Regions from separate parts of the Homo sapiens genome. Here region 1 is linked to region 2. Evidence: fine-mapped expression QTL. A gene starts in region 2. The other region holds a variant in brackets. All regions are shown on one strand. Distances are between the middles of the regions.

Region 1 (12,053 bases), 21 kb before region 2:
TCTTTCTCTTTTCCTTCTTTCCTTCCTTCCTTCCTTTCTTTCCTTTCTTTCCCTCTCTTTCTCTTTTCCTTCTTTCCTTCCTTTCTTTCCTTTCTTTCTCTCTCTTTTCTTCCTTCCTTCCCTCCCTCCTTCCCTCCTTTCTTTCTTCCTTTCTTCCTTTCTTTTCTTTCTTTCTTTTCTCTTTTTTTTTCTTTCAACAGAGTTAAGCTCTTGTCGCCCAAGCTGGAGTGCAGTGGTGTGATCTTGGCTCACTGCAACCTCTGCCTCCTGGGTTGAAGTGATTCAGCCTCCCAAGTAGCTGGGAATACAGGTGCCAGCCACCATGCCCAGCCCAGCTAATTTTTTTGGTATTTTTAGTAGACACAGAGTTTCACCATGTTGGCCAGGCTGGTCTTGAACTTCTGACCTCAGGTGATCCGCCTGCCTCAGCCTCCCAAAGTGCTAGGATTACAGGTGTGAGCCACCACACCTGACCACATTTATTTCTTACAGTTTTAGAGGCTGGGAAGTCCAAGGTTGAGGGGCATATCTGATGAGACCCTTCTTGGTGGTGGGAACTCTCTCTAGAGTTCTTTTTTTTGAGACAGGGTCTCACTCTGTCACTCAGGCTGTACTGCAGTGGAGCTATCATGGCTCATTGCAGCCTCAACCTTCTAGGCCCAAGTGATCCTCCCACCTCAGCCTCCCAAGTAACTGGGACCACAGGCGTGTGCCACCATGCCCGGCTAATTTTGTTTATTTTTATAGAGACAGGATCTCCCTATGTTGCCCAGGCTGGTCTCAAACTCCTAGGCCTAAGCGATCCTCTGCAGAGTTCTGAGGTGGTGCAGGGCATCACATGGCGAGGGGGCTGAGTGTGCTAGCTCCGGTTTCCTTTCCTCTTCTTATAGCACCATGAGACCCACTCCCACGATAACCCGTTAATCTGTTAATCCATGGATCCATAAATGAGTTAATCCATTCATGACAGTAGAGCCCTCATAACTCAATCACCTCTTAAGGACCCCACTTCTCAACATTGCCACATTGGAGATTAAGTTTTAACATGAATTTTGGAGAAGACAAGCATTCAAACCGTAACATCATGTGAGTTATTGTTACTGTGACTTCTGGGACTCAGTACTGGTAACTTTATCCTTTACAAAGGGGAAGGAATACTGTGAAGAATTATTTCCAACTTCTGCTTAATTTCCCAGTTACCTGAGTTCTGCTTACCAAGGTGAAGTCAAGAGCTCTATTTGGCATTCCCTAGGATGGTCCCTGGGGTAGGCTGAATAATGGTGCCCCCAAAGAGATCTGCGTCTTAATCTCTGGGCTTGTACATACCCTATGTGTCCAGATGGGCTGGCAGATATGATTAAAGTAAGAATCTTGAGATGGAGAGATGATCCTGGGTTATTTGGGTGGGCCCTACATGTAATTACAAGAACCCTTATAAAACAGACACATAGACAAGAAGACAGAGAAAAGAGGATGAGGCAATGTGACCACAGAGGCAGAGACTGGCATGAGGTGGCCACTAGTCGATAGGTACAACTATTATGTATCAATATTTTTTTAAAAAAGAAATTCCTGGAGTCACCAGAAGCTGAAAGAGATAAGAAATGGATTCTCGCCTAGAGCCTCAGGAGGGGACACAGCCTTGCATACATCTTGAGCTTGGACTTCTGGCCTCCAGAAATGTAAGACAATAAATTTATGTTGTTTTAGGCCAGTCAGTTTGTAATAATGTGTTCTGGTGGCTTTTACAAATATACAAGCAGGCCAGGCACAGTGGCTCATGCCTGTAATCTTAGCACTTTGAGAGTCCAAGGCAGGAGGATTGCCTGAGGCCAAGAGTTCAAGACCAACCTGGCCAACACAGGTTCACTTTACTTTACATATATATATATATTTTATATATATATGTCTTCACTTTATATATATTATATATTTTATATATTATATATTTTATATATTATATATAATATATTTTATATATTATATATTATAGATATTAGATATTATATATTTTATATATTATATAATATATATTTTATATATTATATAATATATATTTTATATATTATATAATATATTCTATATTTTATACATTATATATAATATATTCTATATTATATATAAAATATAATATAGAATATTATATTTTATATATATTTTATATTTATATATTATATTTTTATATTTTATATTATATATATTATATATTATATATTTTATATTTTATATATTATATATTTTATATATTATATATATTTTATATTTTATATATTGTATATTTTATATTATACACACACACACACACACACACACACACACACACACACACATAATCAGCCATTGGCAGTTACAGCTGCCACCGGGCAGGGCGTGATGTTTAGGCACTGCTGTTTCTGAGAACCAAGTCCAAAGGGCGCCCCCTAAGAATGGCCTTTCCCTTGCCCAGGAGCTAACCCTGGGGAAGTGGATGGTGTTAGGCTGGAGAGAGGTTCTTGCTTCTTCATCTCATCCCGAATTCTGAAACTTGGCTGCATGCTGAGCCCTTTAAATGGGTCTGGCCAGCCAATGGAACAAGCTCCCATAAGAGTACAAAAGCCCAGTGCTCAGCCAGCTCCAAATTCGTAGTGCCATGGTCCTCTCTGGCTCTCTAGACCCTGCCCCCATACCTGCCTCAAGCACTCTTTGCTTCAATCCCCCACACCTCACATGTAATAATTGTCACCATTTCTGGAGCCATGGCTCTCTGCCAGCACCTTTTATGAAGACTTCACATGTGCTGGCTCATGACTCTTCACAACAGCCCCATAAGACAGGTCCATTGTTAGCCCATTTTATAGATGAGGAGACTGACTTGAGCTAGCTCAAGGTCACCTGCCTGGTGAGTGGCAGGCACAGTGCAGTGATTTGGACCTGGCCGACTGGCTTCCTAGGCCAAGCTCTTCATCATGACCCTACGTGCTGACTGCATCATGGTCCATCTGGCACCTCCTGGCTCCTCATGCTGCAGCCCTGAGCCCAAGGCTCCCTTCTGACTGTCCCAGCCTCCTCCCCAGGGAGAGAGACCTGTAAGTCCATAAATGCTGTGAGGGTGCTCAGTCTGGGCAGGGAGATCCTCGCTGTAGACACCTTTCAGACACTTAGTGGTGGGTACTACAGAAAACGTTAGTTACATGTAGTTGGGGACCTAGGGACAAAACGACTTGCTTAACTGATGAGCAAATCTGAGAAAAAATTAGGAATCAAAATATGATTGTTTTAAATGGTTTTATCAAAGTGGCTAGACTTGCCCTGTTGATTTTGCTCAGCCCTGTTCATTTTGAATAGCCTAACAGCTCTGAGTCAAAATGGCCCCAGGCTGAGCTAGTTGCCTAGGGCAGGCCAGGAGGGACATTCTAGGAGCTGGGACTCTGTCTATAGTAAAAAGTCTGCTTATCTACCCTCACAACAACTTTCAGACACCCTGGAGAAGAATGAAAGAATGATCCCTCATCTAAGAGTCCCCAGAGTCCAGTCAGGGAACTAGCAGATGCCTTCTATCCGGGCCAAGTTTCCCAGATTCTTGTTTTGGCTATAGAGCTAAGATCCAAAACATCTAGCTCCACACAAATAAACTTAGAAAGAGCTGCCAACGGTGACCACTCTGAGGGGAGTGACCATGTGCAGAAAGACAGTCAAGGCTTGCAGAAGTCCTGCCATGACGGCTCCTGCTCAGAGGACATCTCTTAAACCATTTCCTTACGTAGCACACACCAATTCCCCTCTATTCTGCATGGTACATGACACATTTTGGGAAACATGAAATATTAAAGCTGGACTGCGGAGCTCCTCAACCTAATTGTGATGTGATGATTCACGCAGCACAGGGGCCTTGCAGCTGCAGAATCTCCCTTTCTGCAGAACTGTTGCCTCCCTGCTGTAGACCAGTGGTTCGCCACTGGGGGCGATTTTACCCCTCAGGGGACATTTGGCAATGTTTGGAGACATATTTGGTTGTCATAGTTGGTGGGGAGAGTGCTGAGGGCTGTTGTAAACATTCTCCAATGCAAAGGACAGCTCTGCACAAGAGAAAATGATCTGGCCCCAAATGTCAGTAATGCTGAGTTAGAAATCCTGGGCTAGAGCCATAGAATAATGAGCAAATAAAGCACTTAATCCTCTGATGATGGCCTGAAAATTGCTCTGATGGATTTTGCACTCGGTGTAATTTAATATTTTCCATAGACGCGTAAAAGCCTTCCTCAGAGCCTCTCCACTCCTTCTATAGCTTCTGCACAGCCAAAAATTAAAAATGTTACTTAATTGTTTAAAAAAAGAAAACCAATTTGAGTCAGCAAGCATTTAGTTGTCAGACTTCTACCAACCTAACAAGCATATTGATAAAACACTAACACACGTGTTAGTTGCAAAAGATGCAATATTGATTTATTTAAATGTCATCATTGTGGTGCTTTTCAATCTTCCAACTGTGTAATCCTAAAATAAATAAATATATATTTCACACACCACACACACACACACACACGCACACTATTAGCAAGTGACATTGGATAGACAGGTGTCCTCTCTTTCCTCTACCATTTTCCTGAATGCAAAAAGAAGAAACGTGGTGTAAAGGCAATACTCTGAGAGAACCAAGACAAAGCAGGAGCTTTAAAAATCCACCCCCTGGGTCCTCTAATAATCAAAGGTTTACCAGAATATATTTATTTTCAAAAGTGTCTGAATTCTGCCTTACTGCCTATCATACAGGCATGGGCATTTGAAAGAGAGATGGATTTGAATGTTGGGGAATCTGCATGTAGGTGGGTACAATACGGGGTTAGGCTGGGGCACATATTTTCATGGTTCATAAGCAAATTTCCTTGTGGCTCACTCAGATTAAATTCTTTCAAGTCCTTGGCCTGTGAGCTAGTGCTAATTTGCGTGGTATTATTTTTCCACCTGATTTGCAAACCAAGAGAATGATAGCAAATGTTGGCCTCCTTTCCTCCTCAGCATGACCAGTCACCCATGTGGTAGGATAATTTATTGAGATATTAATGTGTTTTTTGTTCTTCCGGAATTTTACCCACCCCTGTTCTCAGAAGATAGCTGGGCCTTTGTGTTCCTTGCCTCAGAGTGTTTTTAGGATCCAGGACCAAGGGGAAGTTTAGACAGGTAGCCAGGCTTCTCTCACTCCTTCCTTGGATTTTTAAAAATGTCTAGGCTCGGCCAGGTGCAGTGGCTCATGCCTGTAATCCCAGCACTTTGGGAGGCCGAGGCAGGCGGATCACAAGGTCAAGAGATCGAGACCATCCTGGTGAACATGGTGAAACCCTGTCTCTACTAAAAATACCAAAAAAAAAAAAAAAAAAAAAAAAAAAATTACTGGGCGTGGTGGCAGGTGCCTGTAGTCCCAGCTATTCAGGAGGCTGAGGTAGAAGAATTGTTTGAACCCGGGAGGCAGAGGTTGCAATGAGCAGAGATCGCGCCACTGCACTCCAGCCTGGTGACAGAGCGAGACTCTGTTTCAAAAAAAAAAAAAAAACATGTCTAGGCTCAGTGAAGGCATTTGCTAGGCAGGGGGATTTAACAGAGAATGTGAAAGTGCATAAAGAAGCACAGAATTTTGGGGAAGCATGAAGAGACTCCAAGGTTAGGAAAGGAGAGTTGACTGGGGTCTGTGTCTGGCCTGTTTCTTGGAGGTGATCCAATGTGCTGGGGAACGGTTAGGTGTGTGCAGAGAAAGACTCATTTTAGGCACCAGAAACCGAGTCTCAGCCAATAATCCTGTGCTTGAACTTGATGCAGAACCAACAGTGCCACCCACCTGCACGAGACCAGGTGATGGAACATGGACTATGGGTCCTCCTCAAATGTGCTCCCAGACACCCTAAGGACATTGACCCAACATGAGGGGCTTGGGGTAAGGAGCTCCAGTGATGACTCAGACTAAATTTCTAGCCAACCAAACAGAAAAGAGGGCCTAGAGTCCAAAGTGATTGGACTTTTGAAAAATAAACCAATGCTATGTTACTTTGATTTTTGAGTTTGTAGAGCAAAATCCATCTGAATTCATTTACCTATTGAGTGAGAGTAGGGTAGGTTCTGTTAGAGCAACAGCTTAATCCTGAAATCGGAGTGGCTTTTCAAAACAAGAGCTTATTTCTCACTCATGCTACTTGTCTCGTGAAGGTCAGTAGGGATTCTGCTCCACACACTGACTCAGGGACCCAGCTTGATGAACACACCAAGATCCCAACAAATGGTCTTCACAGTCATCAGGGCAAGAAAAGAGAGGAACTGGAAGATGAAGTGCTGGCTCTTCAATGCTTTGGGAAGCGACGCAGATCACATCAACTGATAACCCATTGTCCAGGACTAGTCACATGACCCCAACTAACTGCTGGGGGCTGGAACACACGGGAGAACAAGTGGACTTTGGTGAGCAGAAAATGCCTCTGCCACAGCCTCTTGGTACTTATTGAACATAGGATGTGTCTTTTGATTTAATACTATTAATAGTTTGCATTTGCATAAATCTCATTATAAAGGCATTTTAGGTTATTTCCATTTATTGTCTTATTCTCCTCTCCTCAAGCTCTTAAAGAAACTAAGGTCCACAAAGTGGAAGTAACAACATAATAAGTGGAAAGGAGGAATAAAAGCCAGGGTTGTGACCTGAGCTTTTTCTGCTCTTCCACAGTGGCTGCAGAGAAACGAATGCTTTGTCAAGAATTTAATTTGAATTTCCTTGGAGCCTTCTTAAAGATCATGGTGGTGGTGGGTGGGGGGAGACACAGAACCTGATTAACT[G/T]TTTGCTGTTGAGAAAGCAATGACTGTACCAAGATTTTACTGAGATTTTTGCGAAATGGGCTGGTTTCCCGAAATGGGCTGGTTTCCCGACAAAAACTCATTCCTTTCTCGTTAAAATACAATTGCTTCCTCTTCTGGGAGCTGGTTTTATGCTATGTTGCAATGCACCTCTTGTTTCCACTCCAGCTAACTGTGTCCTTAACCTTATCCTGACCTCATAGAACCACAGCCCTGGCTCAGCACTTAAGTAAAACCCGCCCAGAGAGGGGCATGGGGCTTCTGAGCTGGAGTGGCCCCGAACTGGAAGGGACTTGAATGAGAAGGGGCATATCATGGATTGTCCCAGGGTGGAAACCACCTGGACTTCTGCCTTGGTGAGCAAAAATCAGACTCAAGAGGAACCAGTGTCCCAAAATGGGCCTACAGTGTGAATGAGGAAAATAGCTAACTACCTCTTATGTGGCACTCACATGGGGCCAGGCAGTTTTAAGCACTTTGCTCTTTTAACTCATTTCACCCCCACAGAAACTCCTCATAAGGTCAGTATTATTATTATTACCACCATTGTAAACATATGGGAACCAGATATAGGCAGCAAAAATGACACCTCCAAGGTGGCACTGCTAGTACAAGGCAGCGTTGCGATGACACCCGAGTATGACATCTGAATATGTGTAAGATACTCCACCAATAATGATTTTTCCCCCTGATTAGGAAGACCAAAAAACTTTTGTATAAAAATAAAAAACTATGGTGCATAAGGAGGGATGAGTTGGATAACTTTTAAAACGTCTGATGCTTATTGCCAACTTGCCCTCCAGAAAGAGAAAGCAACCTATACTTCCAGAGCAGGGTACTGGGAGTAATTCTGCCTCGATAATCTCTGGGCCCTGATGCAAAGGGGTGTACTGTGACAGCATGGCTCACTAAGCCTCCTGGACACAAATCTCTTCTCAAATTGGTTTCCAGGACTCAGGCTCAGACATGAAATAAAGTTAAACTCAGTGTTGAGTTTCGGCTCTGGAGTTGAAAAGGTATCTCCGAAATGCAGTTTTTCTTTCTTTCTTTCTTTCTTTCTTTCTTTCTTTCTTTCTTTCTTTCTTTCTTTCTTTCTTTCTTTTTCTCTTTTCTTTCTTTCTTTTCTTTTTTTCTTTTCTTTCTTTCCTTTCTTTCTTTCTTTCTTTCTTTCTTTTTCTTTCTTTCTTCTTTCTCTTTCTCTCCTTTCTTTCTCTTTCTTTCTTTTCTTTTCTTTCTTTCTTTCCTCTCTCTCTCTTTCTTTTTTCCTTTTTTTTTTTTTTGACAGAGTCTCACTCTGTTGCCCAGGCTGGAGTTCAGTGGTGTGATCTCTGCTCACTGCAGCCTCCGCCTCCCGGGTTTAAGCGATTGTCTTGCCTCAGCCTCCTGAGTAGCTGGGACTACAGGTGTGCACCACCATGCCCGGCTAATTTTTGTATTTTTAGTAGAGACAGGGTTTCACCATGTTGGCCAGGATGGTCTCGATCTCCTGGCCTCGTGATCTGCCTGCTTTGGCCTCCCAAAGTGCTGGGATTACAGGTGGGAGCCACTGTGCCCAGCCAAAATCCAGTTTCTTGTGTAACATACTCTGTCTGAGCCACTTTCTTCATCTGAAAATGAGGATAAGGACTGTACCTGCTTATGGGGTTGTTGCAGGGAGTAAATGTGTGGTGGGTGAAGTGGTCAGCACTGTGCTTAACATAGAGTAAGTGCCGCACAAGTGTCACCTGCCATCAAAGTGTCACCGACTCACCAGAGGCACGGTTTGAAGGGAAGGTCTCCAGGGAGCAGAGATTAGCCTGTTTAACCAGTTTAATAAATGCTTTAGTAAAAGAAAAAGAGTTGTTCCTAGAATCAGCAGAATTCCTGTCACTTCAAGGAAAGTCATTGAGAAACATGGGCTCAGCAGTTTGCACTGAGAAGGGTATGTGCATGTAGGAGGGGAAGGGGGGCAGAGTTTCCAAAATAAGTAGATTGATTGCGTTCTGTGTTTTCTCCCCATTTGCAAGCATTAGGTAATTGACGTCGAAGTGATGGAGGAGAGATCAATATGTGTGTTTTCTCTCTCGCTAGAAGCATGAGAGGCAGCTAAGTCAAGTGAGGGCGATGGCTGGGCTGGAAGCACTGGTGCCTTTCCCTGACAACAGGAGGCCACAAAAGCCATTTCATCATCATCATCCACCCAAACATCAAACATAAATGGATAAGGCTGCATATCGATAAGTATCAAATAACCTGTAAGGAATATTAAAGCATAATCAACTAGCAGTGGTCCTTTATCTGCTTGAGGATCAGTGCTGTAGGAAACCAGGCACCCTGCTCAGTGTGTTCTGTACATGATCTGACTCCATCTTCCCAGCCACCTCTTGGGGTCCAGATTACATCCCACTTTATAGACCAGGAAACTGAGGCTTGGAGGAAATGAGCCTTGGCCCTGCATAGCGCTTATGTGGAAGAGCCAGGATTAATTTTTTTTTTTTTTTTTTTTTTTTTTTGAGACAGAGTCTCGCTCTGTAGCCCAGGCTGGATGGAGTGTAGTGGCATGATCTAGGCTCACTGCAACCTCCGTCTCCCAGGTTCTGGTTCAAGCAATTCTCCTACCTTAGCCTCCCGAGTAGCTGGGATTACAGGCACACACCACCAGGCCCAGCTGATTTTTTTTTTTTTGTATTTTTAGTAGAGACAGGGTTTCACCATGTTGGCCAGGCTGGTCTTGAACTCCTGACCTCGTGATCCGCCCACCTCGGCCTCCGAAAGTGCTGAGATTAGTGCCAGGATTTAAACCCAGAGTTGCCTGACTGCCAAGTTTCTCTTAACCATTCATTTACCAAATATTTGTTGAGTGCCTACTATATACAAACAGCATTTTAGATACCTGGGTTACAATGATGAAGACACAAAGAAGCCTCCATCTTTCTATTAGTTTTCTGTTGGGGCCCTAACAAACTACCACAAACTTAGTGGCGTAAATAACAAAAAATTCCTTCTCTCAGTTCTGGAGTCTGAGAGTTTGAAATCAAGGTAGCAATAGGACTGTGCTCCTTCTGGGGACTCTAGGAGAAAGCCCCTTCTTTGCTGTTTCTGTCTTCTGGTGGCTATTGGTGTTCCTCAACCTGTGACCACCTCACTCTACTCTCGGCCTTTGTGGTCACGTTGTCTTCTCCTCTTCCGTCTGTGTCTAATCTCCTTCTGCATTCCTCATATAAGGACACTTGACATGGAACTTAGGGGTCACTGGATAAGTCAGAATGATCTCCTCATCTCAAGAGTCTTAATTATATCTGTAAAGACCTGTTTTTTTTAACCACATAAGATGATAGTTGGCTGGTTGCGGTGGCTCATGCCTGTAATTGCAGCACTTTGGGAGGCCAAGGCGGGCAGATCATGAGGTCAGGAGATCGAGACACAGTGAAACCCTGTCTCTACTAAAAACAGAAAAAGTTAGCCGGGCGTGGTGGTGCGTGCCTGTAGTCCCAGCTACTTGGGAGGCTGAGGCAGGAGAATGGCGTGAACCAGGAGGTGGAGATCGTGCCACCGCACACCAGCCTGGGTGACAGAGTGAGACTCCATCTCAAAAAAAAGATGATAGTCACAGGTTCTGGGGATTAGAACATGAATATCATTTGGGGAGCCATTATTCGGCCTACCTCAAGGGCCATCCTAGGGAATGCAAAATAGAGCCACCACTCAAACCAATTCAACCCTTGAAGAGTTTAAGATCTGGCTGGGTGTGGTGGCTCACGCCTGTATTCTCAGCACTTTGGGAGGACGAGGCAGGTGGATCACTTGAGGCCAGGAGTTTGAGACTAGCGTGACCAACACGGTGAAACCCTGCCTCTACTAAAAATACAAAAATTAGCCAGGTGTGGTGGCACACGCCTGTAATCCCAGCTACTTGGGAGGCTGAGGCAGGAGAATCACTTGAATCCAGGAGGTGGAGGTTGCAGTGAGCTGAGATGGTGCCACTGTATTCCAGCCTGGGTGGCAGAGTGAGACTCCATCTCAAAAACAAAACAAAACAAAACAAAACAAAACAAAAAAAAAACCCAAACACAAAAAGCTTAAGATCTAATGAGGCTATACACTAAGCAAATCAATACACAAAAAGGCATTAAGTGGTGTTAAGAGCCCAGCTGAAAATAAAACAGGGCTTGGTAAGGACAACATCTGGGACCCCTGTGGGTCAGCAGGACAGGAAAGTTCTCTCTGAGTGGGCAGTTTTGAAAGTAGACGCAAAGGACAAGAAGCAGCCTGCTGATCATCTTCACATCTTCAGTAGAGCCTGACCATTCTGGTTCATCAGCTTAATTTATGCCTTAATGAGTAAATAATACTTCTGGATGAGTTGGGCATAGCATCTCCTGCCAGGAGAGGGAGGAAGAAGCATTTTCTTATATGCAAATAAAATGGCTTTAATATCATAAACTGCAAGCAGCCTTAACAGACCACTGTCTTCACAACTGCCAAAAAGAGCTGCTGCGGACCAACTGCTATAAATCCTAGCTCATCATATTTGGCTGACTTCCCCTGCCTTTTAATGATTTTATAGCTAATAACAGAACAGAATGTCGTCTCATTCAGTTACTTGGGGTGTACATTTTGCAGTGAGTTAAACCCAGAGAGGCCACTGGTGAGTTACGCTGATAAAGTTAGGCATTCAATGGTTGCTTTATTGATGTTTTTTAATACCTAAGGTAGGTGTTTGGTTACAGTCTCTTGGAGTATTTTTCCAGCCAAACATTTTGCAGCCACATTCCATGGCATGTGGCTTTGAGGTATTGATTACCCGCTGGCTCGCCTGTCACAGCAGATTCAAAGGTATTGTCTGAAGGGAATCTAGGCTGGCCCTTAGACCTGTGGCTTCCCTGTAGACAGAGGTCAGTGGCTTTGAGTTCACTTGCCTATCCTGTTTGACTCCATGACTTCAGAAAGAGCCTTTTGTTCCTACCTCTAAGTTCAGTTAATTGGTAAATCTATTTCTTTTTTTTTTCAAATAACAAACACTATGTTTATTAATATCCCTCTATTCAACCCCTCTGCCTCCCACACTTCCGAGTCTTCATTGTGTATTATTGCACTCTCTTCATCCGTGCAAACACATTCTTTTTTGTTTTTCCACCAATACCATGGCTTTATTTATTTTTTTTTTAGGTTTTATGTAAATTTTTCTTTTTTTAAATTATACTTTAAGTTCTAGGGTACATGGGCAAAACGTGTTATTTTTCTGTACTGAATGACAACCC
Region 2 (12,053 bases):
TTAGCAGTGGGCTGAACAACTAGGAGAGGTGTGTATGCCAGGGCTGGAAATCTTGGAAGGCTGTCTTGGAATTCCATCTACCACATGCACCTATTTCTACAGAGGTTATGAGGCTTAAAATAAGTGTATGTAATGTGCCTGGCACATAACAAGCATGTTTTAGGTAGGAGCATTTGCATGCAAAAAATTAGCCACTTGGGTTCTCAGGATTGATGAGAACTTGGTTGTGGTGAAAGAAGAGTGTTGTTAGGAACAATGGAACAGCCTCTGGTTCTCAGCTGAAGGGCTTCATTTTGATCTATTTGGAAGCAGGAAGTGCCTGTCTTTCTTGGATGAATGACACTGATGCTCTCCCTGATTTAGGTTTTTGCTGTGGCAACAGCAGTGAGGACAGGCTTTGGAATGAGGGAGAAAAAACCTGATAATGGCCGTCTGGACCAGCCCTCTCAGAAACCATCTGCTTGAAGCTTTTGATTCTGAGAGGAGTGGAGAGGTTTCCTCCAACTACAAGTTCAGGGATTTGGAAACCACTAAAATAATATCTTTTCCAAAACTAGTCCAGCAAGGCTCTAATTGGGAGAAATGGGAAATGGAAGTCAGGCTCCCCACTCTCTCTGCTAACCACACACGGGCCGTGGTTGAGGTCCATTTCCAAATCACAGGAGGCCACTTCCTGTCTTAGCTTAGCATTGTTGGCGGGAGAATCTAACAAGGGGCCAAGGCCCTGTTGACTCTGGGAGAGAAGCAAATGGCCACCATCCATGAGTAAGAACCTGGACTTTCATCCAGCCTGCGGGTTGAATTGCCTGCTCACAAGAAATCTAGGTTCAGAGCGTTCTAGGGCAGGCACAAAATAAGCAGGACAGAGATAAAAAGATGGGAGTGAGAATGGAGAGATTGTATTTTTCCTTCCACAGATGCCATGGGGGAGCTGGGGCAGGGAGGAGCTTATCTTCCCCAAGCTCCTAGACGAGGCAATTCTTATTTCTAGCTGAATTCCTTTTCATCTCTCCTGACTTCTTCTCCACCCTTCTCCTCTATCTGCCTTGGCTTCTGGATCTTCTCAAAGCATCCCCCAGAAAAACTTCAGCCAACTTACTCCCTTTGACCAACTGTCATTTTTGAAAAGCTGCCCAGTCTCTTTGCGGTGATTTTCAAAGAGAGACCCAGGACTAGGTTTTCTTTCAGTGACAGCAATAGGTAGGAGGAGGGGTGAAGAAGACAGGAGTTTCTGATGTGGGAAACCACACACACACACACACACACCCCTAAGAAATGCTGAATCTGTAATTGCAAGACAATATAACCTTCCTGACATCTGAGGAAGATGTCAAGAAAGAAAAGCAAAAACTCATATTTGTGTTATAGCTGCTGGGGTTTCTACATTAGGGAGAGCTGACCCTGTTTGACCTTGCCTGTCGAGACCAGAGGGTTACAGAGAGACTGACCAAAGATATGTGGCCAAAAGGCCAATCATATGTGGGCAAAACTGGCCAAGCTGATCAGTTTGACACGTCAAAAGACAGATGTTGTCTGACTTGGGCAGCTTGTGGGCCAGAGAAGAAATCCAAAGCTCAGTATCTAAGAATGCAAAGGCGAGCAACAGTGTGAACCATCACCTGTGCTCCAGGTAAAGCCTGCCTGCCCTGCGTCATCACTTATTCAAGCAAAGGACTAAGAGCAGCACAATTCTGGCTTGTTAGTGTATGGCCTGAAAGTGAAGACTTCATTTCCCTTCTTCCCTGTGCACTTTCCTCGTCACTGTTCAATACAGGTGCCAAATGTGTCATCATGCTTGATGGAGCCTGGCGTTGGCTGGCTGGCTGTGATCAGCAGCTGACCACCTGACAGAAACACTTTCCCTAATTACATTTTTAACTTGGATTGTGCCACACTTAGTTACATTTTTGGGGGGAAAAGAAAGGAAGGGAGGGAAGAACAGTGAGTGAAGGAGGTTTGCAGAAAGCTTCAGGGCCAGATAGCACACAGACAGCCCACCTTAAAAATCAACACATCTTCCCATTTGTAACTTAACTACATGTCTAAATGTTGACATCCAGTGAACAAATATTAATTAAAAACCCAAGACATTCAAAACTGCACAAATGTCATCTTCCATTGTGTGAAATCAAAAAGGAACGTGTGGGTGAGTGGGGAGGTGGGGAGACACACCATAACCTACCTCTTATTGGTAATGAGCTTGAATTGTGGAAGGATACTTTCTGACTTCATACCATTTCTTATTAGTATGATGGTCAAAATTACAAAAAAAAAAAAAAATCACTCAGACTAATGGTCTCTTGTGGGCAAGTGGCGAAGAACACTGATTTGGCTTATTTTATTCTCTGTACTTCTCCTGGTGTGGTGGACAGTTTGCTGATACAATTATTTTGGATAGGACTTCATGTTAGGTATTGGCATGGAGGCATCCACATTTTTTTTTTTTGAGATGGAATCTCACTGTGTTGCCCAGGCTGGAGTAGAGTGGCACGATCTCTGCTGACTGCAACTTCCACCTCCTGGGTTCAAGTGATTCTTCTGCCGCAGCCTCCTGAGTAGCTGGGATTACAGGTGCCCACCACCATGCCCAACTAATTTTTGTATTTTTAATAGAGATGGGATTTCACCATGTTGACCAGTTTGGTCTTGAACGCCTGACCTCAGGTGATCTGCCTGCCTCAGCCTCCCAAAGTGCTGGGATTACCAGTGTGAGCCACTGTGCCTGGCCCTCATATGTTTATAAATCACTAGATTTTAAATATTGGCAGGGCTACAAACAAGGAGAGCTTGTCTGTGAAGAGAAAAACAATTAGCAAGGTCCTTCATTGTTTCTTCCTCTGCTGTCCATTCTATTTATTTGTCTGCTGCTAGGATCTAGGGGTGTCCTCGACCCTGCACATAATGGCAGGCCCCCTGTCTTCATCAGCACTGCTACATCCTCATATTTGGCAGGGAGCACTCTCATTTAAGGTAATGAGTGACTCCCTTTCACAATAGAACTCTGAGTGTGGCTCAAATTCACCCTGGCTAATGAATCTTCTGTATGGTTTTTTTTTTTTTTTTTTCTGAGGCAAGGTTTCACTGTCACCTAAGCTGGAGTGCAGTGGCACAGTCATGGCTCACTGCAGCCTCAACCTTCTGGGCTCAAGCAATCCTTCTGTCTCAGTCCCTCAAGTGACTAGGACTACAGGTATGTGTCACCACTGGCTATTTTTTTTGTTTGTTTTTTGAGACGACATCTTACTATGTTGCCCAAGCTCATCTTGAACTCCTGGGCTCAAGTGATCCTCCCTCTGCCTCTGCCTCCCAAAATGTTGCGATTACAGGTGTGAGCCACCCTGCCCGGCCTTGTGTTTCATTTTTAACCCTGATATAAGTAACAACACATCTGCTTATTAATATGTTCATGTTAACATTTACTATCCAGTTTGGGTGGAAGGAGAGTGTTCTCTGCCTCTGAGGTCCAGTTTTAACATTTATAAGTGCAGCGGGTCCTCCTGTTGTGGCCCACAAACCTTACTTGGGAAAATGTCACATTTGAGCAACCACACAAAACTACTCTGTGATCTCTGAATATAGTAAGGTCACCAGCCCCCACTTGATCTTCTGTTAAATGACCAAGATCATTTCTGGTCAGAAAGTATGTGTGTTTTTGCGAGTTTTTTTTGTCTTTGTTGACACATAATGGTGTAGAAATCAAGCTTAAAACTGATTGTAGAACAGTTTGGTGAGAAAGATTTTTGCTTTTCTGCCATAATATTCCCCTGGACTTTGCTTCGGGTCCAAAGTAACACCGGGAAGTTTAAGACCACAGAAATGTGACTAAATGAATGCTGATCACATTTACAAAAGCAAGTGACTTTGTCCAAAGTCTCTCATTCTCAGATCCATAGTAGACATATAGATACTTTTTCTAAGGGCAAAATTTCCTGGTTCACTAAGCCAGACTTCCATGTTATTGACGAAATAAAGATAATATTGAAAATGACAGTGTCTGAGAAGCAATCTCAAACTGCCTTTTATTACTGCACACAGTTAACGTGGAATTGAGAATCACTTTCTTTCTAACATAAAATGTGAGCCGTAGAGTTACTACTGAAATTCACCACAGTGATTCAGCCAACAACTCAACTTATTCCTTTGCAAAAATTTCTGAAGGTTTTTTTTTCTCCCTTCAATCTCAGCATTACAAAATAATGAGCAAACAGTTAAATTGGCCCAGCTCTGAGTTTCAAGAGAGATTTATGGTCTGCTCATCCTCTGGAGGGACCATAAAACCACCGATGACATCTTACTTTGAAATCTCTTGTATTAAGTAAAGAGATGGGTGTGGTGCGATAGTGAACTCTGCATGTGAGTGGTATTTAGACAAGTTCTGTACTTCAAAACAGAGTCCTTAACTCATACGAAGGCTTCCTGCCACTAGCAAGGGATCTCAGTAATGAGCGTGCTGCCTTCCCTAACACCCCCATCCTTTTCCAGAAAGATTCTTAATTTTATCCTAAATATATTTGATATTTTTTCCTCTGTATTTTGCTTTGGGTTTAAAAAATTCCCTGAAAGATTTTTTTCTCGTCTGTGGAAGCATCAAGCCGCAGATCCAAGTCAGTCCAAATCACCAGGATCATACAAGACGATAAAAGTGCCTTCAAGTTCTAATACTTGCTGGATGGGCCCAAGCCGCGTTTTAAATGTGAACAATGGGGTGGCTGCGGCAGAGAACTGACCATTTACTTCCTGCCTCAGATGACCCCCTTGTGATCTCTGAAACTGGGCAGAGGAATAAGGAAAGGGAAAGAACTGGGTTTTGGGGAGAAACATGCTTTCTGGAAGGCGCCCAGGTTTACCCAAAGAGCACAGTTAAGTGCTGAATTTCAACTAGCTCTGGAGTCACCCTGTTTGGGGCCTCATTCTGGAAACCCGAAGTCCAGCGGCAGCTTTCCTCCACATCAGGACAGAGAGTGGGGTTTGGGAGCGGACGAGGGAGCGGGAGTGGACGAGGGAGCAGGAGTGGGGCTCAACGACGACCCAGGCGCTCAAGGGGAAGGGGCTGAGAGCGTTTCTTCGCTGTGCGGCTGCAATAGAAACTTTTTCCTCGTACTATCTGACTCCGGGACTGGACTGTGAGGTCTGCAACAGCTGGTGGGGTTCGGGTGGGGAACACACTCTAAGCCCAGCGCCAGGGCTGGAGCCGTGGGTGGAGCCGCTGCAGCCCTGGGCCGGGGGCGTCAGGAAACTCGAGACTGGGGCGCGGGGAGGCCCCGGCCAGAGCGCCCGCTCTCCCGCGTCCCGGGCGGGGTCCTCACCTGTTCCAGCGGGCCACCTTCCTCCGGTAATACCGCAGCGCCTCCTGGCTGGCCAGGAGCGAGTCCTCGGCTCCCAGGAGAGGCGGCTCCTCCGGGACGTTGTACAGCGGGTGGGCGAAGAGGGCCTGCAACTTGGAGCTCGACCCGCTGTGGCTGCCGCCAGCCGGTTCAGTCCGGGGCTCGGTTCGGGAAAAGTTGTGCACGATCGTGCCGGGGTCCGAGGCAGCTGCGGCCGAGTCCCGCGCCAGGGAGGAGGCGCGGCCGGTGCACGGGCACCCCCGCGGGCGCTCCCGAGGCCGCAGCTGGCGCTGTACTTGGGGCCAGAGGTGGAAGTAGAGGTCGGCGGAGAGCAGCGCGCCCAGCAGCAGCAGAGTCAGTAGGCGGTCCCGGCGCAGCCCCGGCATGGCGTGCTGGCCAAGGGGGACGCCGGGGGCAGGCCGGCTGTCTCCGGGGTCCCGGGAGGGGTCGCGGGGTGCGGGCAGAAGAGGTGCCTGGAGTCCCGCGGGTGGGCCGGGGTCAGTGAGACCGGAATGCTCCCCGCGCGGGCTAGTCCCCTGTGGAGGGGTGTCGCTCCTCAACTTGGGGACCAGGTGCACGGAGCACCGGGGCTCTCGGAGTCAGCGGGCGTCGCTTCTCCGCGCCGAGTGAGCCGAGGGAATGGGGTTCCCGGGGTGCCCGCTTCTTGCGCCTTTTCTCCCGTGCGCCCGCCCGCCCGGACGCTCGCGGCAGGTGAAGGGCCCCGGGGCGCCGGCGCCGGCTGCCACCGCGGGCGGACGGGCGACGGGGCGGGGGGCGACCGCGGAGGGCGGACGGAGGCCGCCGGCTGCAAAGCCCGGGGCGTCTCTCCTGAGGATGCTGTCGCTCGGCGGCGGCTGCTAGTGCTCCCGCGACTCCTCCTGCGGGCGGCGGAGACGCCAGTGCCGGCGGCTGGCACGGGCGGCGCGAGTGGGGAGTTGGCGAAGCAGGAGCGGCTCCGGGGAGCTTGTCTGTGCGCCTGGACTCCTAGAGGCAGAGGTAGCGCGGGGCCTCCCCGAGCCTGGCCTGGCGCCGGCACCCCCACCCACTCTCCGCTGGCACCTGCCTCTGGCGCAGCTGACGGCCAACTCCCGATCCGAAGCCGGCGCTGCCCTTGCACCTTGTCACCCACCCACTGCCTGCGCCCTCCCCCTCGCTCGGGCCTCCCACTTTCCCTGCCCAGGTCTCAATCCAGTCACTTTAAGGGACTCACGCGAGGGGTCCGAAGCCTCTTTTTACCATTTCTATTATTTTTAGGGAAAAAAAAACCACCACAAGCCCCCTAAAACCCTTTTTTTCCTGTAAGCTTTGCCAAATGAGTGTGTGGGGGGGGGTGGGGGGAGGCGGGGGTGGCAGTGTTGGTATCTGTTCTTTCTTTGTGTTCCCTTCCACCTCCGCCCCCCTGCAGAGCGCAGGGCACATCAAGATTCATAACAACTACCTACCACATGCCTGGCACATAGTAGGTGCTCAGGAAACACGCTCTTGGTGAAGGAAAGAGCTTGACCTTTAAAAGTAAGGTATCAGTTTTACCTAGAATCTTGCTGATTTCCTGTTTGGAAGGAGTTTGATTCCAACTCTGCCTGTACTTTAAAAAGAGGAAATGTTTCTTGCACTCAGGGAGGGAGGGGCCCTGATGACCCCACTCCGAACTTTTGAGTTTAGCTTGGTGTGAAAGTAGTCCACCCAAATGAATCACTGGAGGACACATTTAGGCTTTCTCCAATATTCTGTGAGGTAATGTACCCTCCCCACACCCAGTTTTCCTTTTGAAGAAGAGGGAGGGAGTCCTGAACTCCTGGCTCCTCTATTTAATGACCCCATAGTATAGTAAAGTGAAGTCTGATTGGAGAGGCGGCCCCACCCTGCTGAATTTCAGGAAATCCACCAGAAGCTGCTTGCCCAGGCAGCAAAGCTTCCCATGTAAGTTAGTTCTACTCTTTAACCCCCTCCCTTCCCTTGCTGGAATTGAGAACCCTCAGACATACTTTGACTTGTGGGTTCAGACCAGAGTTCTTTTCCCCGTGGTTCAGTGTAAGATTTCTTCGGGACTTTGCAGTCTCCTCAAATGTAAATGAAGATAATGATGGAACCTACCTCCTAAGGTTATTATGAGACTTAAATGAATTGAAGTACAATTATGTGTCACGTCTGAGAAATGCATCCTTAGGCAATTTTCCTGTGTGTGTGAACATCAGGGTGTACTTACACAAACCTAGATGGTTCAGCCTACTACACACGGAGGCTACATGGCATAGCCTGTTGATCCTAGGTACAAACCTGTACAGCATGCGACTACTGAATGCTGTAGGGAGTTGTAACACAGTGGTGAGTACTTGTGTGTCTAAACATAGGAAACATACAGTAAAAATACAGTATTGTAATCTTATGGGACCACTGTTGCATTGACTAAAATGTTATGTGGCACTTGACTATGTATAAATTACTTAGAAGAGCTCCTAACTCATCCTAAATAAGTGTGAAATATGTGTTTGCTATCATTATGATTACTTATTAGTTCCTGTAGTACACTAGGCTTGGTTAGAGACTGCTCATCGCTAGGACAAAAATAGAAAAGGATGGAAAAGGAAGATAGCAGGAAGGAACCTGCTTTCAGGGGCATAACATTGTGGCCTGAGTGCCCAGTCCAAGTGAAAAAGCCCAAGACGGTACTATTCCCAGCTACTCCACTCCTCTGGGTATGATGGTGGGCATTTTGAGGGGTTCTAGAACCTCCTCCTTTTTATCTGGAATTAAATTTTAACTGATTTCCAATTTCTGAGAGACGTTGCAACTTCTAATGTGTTTAATTAGATGTCATGGCAAGCGAATGAAGAAGTCAGGCATTGAATGGTGGTGATGTAACTGCAGTAACTGTGTGGCAAACTGATGCGCATTTTTCTCGGCTGGCAAAGGACGTGGATGTGGTGACACTGCAGGTCTTGTGACTTCAATTCTCCTCAACCCATGGGGTCATACTCGCTTAGTAGACTCTTTTTTTTCTGGCCCCAATTTAGGGAACAATAGTGTAACTTGCTTGGAAATTATGTAAACATATTTTCCATGCCCTTTAAAGGTCACAGTCAAGTGCAGAACTGCATGTGGGAGTTAGATATTAAGTGTGAATGAAGCTGGATAGGAGAGTGGAAATCCTACCAGTAGGATTGGCCAATAGGATGTTGGCTTCCTCAGGTTTGCCTCTAATCTACCTTTACCCCTCCTAGAAATGAGCCTTCTCCTGCTCCTCCGATCTTCCATGTCTTGGGCCCTGGCTTACTTGCCAGCCTCACATACATCCTCTCCGTTCACACTGAAGGTATCCTAAATTGCTGTTTGCTGGGACCCATCATTCTGTTTAAAATCTTTCATTGGAAGCCCCTCCCTCCTTTTCCATCTCTACTGATCTTGATGTATCTAGAGCCTCATAATCTCTTGCTCATACTTGCAAATAGGCTTCTAACTGGTCCCTCTGCTTCCATGGTACCTTAGTTCAGTGCCCACACACACTCTTGCCAGAGTGAGACTTCTAGTATGCAGAGGCAACCAGGATATTCTCCTCCTGAAAACCCCCTGAGCTTCTCCTTGTTGCTGGATTAGGTCACTCATTGTGACACAGCTCTTCGTGGTCTGGCTTCTACCTCCTTTCTTCTTTATATGCCCCCTCTTTCGTCTTCACCCCACAAGACTTTCTGCAATTCCCAAGTGCTCCAACCTTGTAGGGGTGGGTTGCCCCTCCACACCTGTGGGTGTTTCTCATAAGGTGGAACGAGAGACTTAGGAAAGAAAAAGACACAGAGACAAAGTATAGAGAAAGAAATAAGGGGACCCGGGGAACCAGCATTCAGCATATGGAGGATCCCCCCAGCCTCTGAGTTCCCTTAGTATTTATTGATCATTTGTGGGTGTTTCTCGAAGAGGGGGATGTGTCAGGGTCACAAGACAATTGTGGGGAGAGGGTCAGCAGACAAACACGTTAACAAAGGTCTTTGCATCATAGACAATGTAAAGGATTAAGTGCTGTGCTTTTAGATATGCATACACATAAACATCTCAATGCTTTACAAAGCAGTATTGCTGCCTGCAGGTCCCACCTCCAGCCCTAAGGCGGTTTTTCCCTATCTCAGTAGATGGAGCATACAATCGGGTTTTATACCGAGACATTCCATTGCCCAGGGACAGGCAGGAGACAGATGCCTTCCTCTTGTCTCAACTGCAAGAGACATTCCTTCCTCTTTTACTAATCCTCCTCAGCACAGACCCTTTACGGGTGTCGGGCTGGGGGACGGTCAGGTCTTTCCCTTCCCACGAGGCCATATTTCAGACTCTCACATGGGGAGAAACCTTGGACAATACCTGGCTTTCCTAGGCAGAGGTCCCTGCGGCCTTCCGCAGTTTTTGTGTCCCTGGGTACTTGAGATTAGGAAGTGGTGATGACTCTTAAGGAGCATGCTGCCTTCAAGCATCTGTTTAACAAACCACATCTTGCACCGCCCTTAATCCATTCAACTCTGAGTTGACACAGCACATGTTTCAGAGAGCACGGGGTTGGGGGTAAGGTCACAGAATCTCAAGGCAGAAGAATTTTTCTTAGTACATAACAAAATGGAGTCTCCTATGTCTACTTCTTTCTACACAGACACAGTAACAATCTGATCTCTCTTGCTTTTCCCCACACAACCTCTCACAGATGTGTCTTTAACCGAAAGCTCTTTCTCCTTTCCCCACCTGGAAAACACCCATTAGTCCACCCAAGCTTTGGCCACTTGTCCAATTTTTCTCTGATGCTTGTCTTCATACCCATTAAACTCAGTGCCTTGTGCTCTCATGTGCCCCCACAGCTCCTCATATGTTCCCCTATTACAACGTTGGCCATGTTGGGTTTCCTTTTTAGTATGTGTTATGGGTTGACTATATCCTGCTCTCAAATTCACTTGTTGAAATCCTAACCTCCAATACTTCAGGACGTTACCTTATTTGGAAATAGGGTTGTTGTAGAAATAATTAGTTAAGCTGATAGCGTACTAGTGTAGAGTGGACCCTTAATGCAATATGACTTGTGTCCTTATAAAAAGGAGAAATTGGGACACAGAGACATGCATACAGGGAGAATGCCCTATGAAGATAAAAGACAGATTGGGCAATTCTTCTATAAGCCAAGGAATACCAAAGACTGCCAGCAAACACAAGAAGCTAGGTAAGAGGCATGGAACAAATTTGTCCCTCACAGCCCTCAGAAGAGTCCAACTCTACTGACACCTTGACCTTGGATTTATAATTCTAGAACTGTGAGACAATAAATTTCTGTTGCTTAAGCCACCCAGCTTGTGGCACTTTGTTACAGCAGCCATTGCAAATTTACACAGTACACATGTCTGCCATCTTCACTGGAGCACTACTCCTGAGTGTAGAGGGAGAATGCTACTTATATATGTACACAGAGCTCTGAGGATGGGGCCTATCATTTGAGAAATGCTCAAGAAATGTTTGCTGAGTGAAGGCAGAGATATTGGCCATCTCTACAACTGTAGAATCTCGCATATGGCCTAGTATACAGTAGGGGCTAAATTATTGTTTACAATAAGATGACATAGCTTTGGACCCTGTAGGAGACATAAAGAAATATATGACACAATTCCTTCCTGCCTTCAAGAGTCTTGTGATCATCAGAGAGTCCAGCTATACCTGTACTCACAAGCCAATGGGAAAAAAGTATGAGGTAGTACACAGAGCAGATTAGCAATCTGTGCCATTGCATGCATTAAGAGGAGCAAATGCAAAGGGCAGTTGTGTTTCCTTTCAGTCTAGCTAAATATCAAGCTCTCTACTTGCAGGAGTTAAATCATGAAAACAATAGAGTCAACATTTAAACACCAAGTTCCTCTATCTGTGAAGGTTAGACTCTATTTTTATCTTGCCCATGTTCCCGTGTTGCTTAGAACTTGACTAGTTGTTTTTTGTTTGTGTAGGCAGTTTTCTATACTAGACTATAACTCCATGAGTTCAAGGGTAACATGTTTTCTTTTTTATTTTCCTGTCTTCATAGGATCTTAGACACAGCAAGGCATGCAAATGAGAATTAACAAATTCCTGCAGAATAAATGATGTTTGTGGGTTTATGTGTGTTCATACATGGAGGTGGGAAGTGGTTTGGAAAAGAGCACTTAAAATAAGAACATAAATGTATATAATCTAGCTCAAGATAAGTGTTAAGTTAGAACATCTACATAAGTGTTAAGTTAAACATCCGTTATGGTTTTTTTTTTCTTTAGACAGGGTTTTTCTCTGTCATCCAGGCTGGTGTGCAGGGTGGCAGAGTGTGATCTGGCTCATGGCAGCCTTGAACTCCTGACCTCAAGTGATCCTCCCACCTGTCAGCCTCCTGAGTAGCTGGGACTACAGGCTCATGCCATCAGGCCTGGCTAATTTTTTTTTTTTTGGTAGAGATGGGATTTCACCATGTTGCTCAGGCTGGTTTCCAACTCCTGAGCTCAAGCTATCTGCCTGTTTCAGCCTCCCAAAGTGTTGGGATTACAGACATGAGCCACTGTGCCTGGCCCCAGTAGATGTTTACTTAGAACATCAATGGAAATTGCCTTGATCCTATTGAAAAACCAATAAGTAAGAGACACATAAAGAAATAACTAAATGTAGACATCTATGTCCCTCACAGTTTTTATTATAGTATAGATGCATGTGAGGAATGTTACCTTTACCTGCTAGCTGTCTCAGTAA

Which allele goes with the higher level. Alleles are on the strand shown, and positions count from the first base shown. SD is a standard deviation of normalised expression in the study named.
For the expression in atrial appendage of the gene that starts at base 6,411 in region 2, G is the low allele of the variant in region 1 and T is the other (small effect, 0.25 SD a copy in GTEx).

Evidence for each region. PIP is the estimated chance that this variant, and not a neighbour inherited with it, causes the effect.
Region 1: its variant is fine-mapped to the expression of FAM20A in atrial appendage (GTEx, PIP above 0.99). The same link has a PIP of 0.9 or more in lung.

The regions. Positions count from the first base shown.
Region 1 is chr17:68,573,503-68,585,555 of GRCh38, forward strand. The region is part of intron 1 of FAM20A (FAM20A golgi associated secretory pathway pseudokinase); the gene reads right to left. Among named protein-coding and RNA genes, the nearest start is that of FAM20A, 22 kb to the right of the region's middle. The variant G/T (reference allele first, on the strand shown) is at 6,796.
Region 2 is chr17:68,594,957-68,607,009 of GRCh38, forward strand. It overlaps FAM20A (FAM20A golgi associated secretory pathway pseudokinase), which reads right to left and starts at 6,411. Exons shown (of 11, transcript NM_017565.4): 1 at 5,307-6,411. The coding sequence starts at 5,710.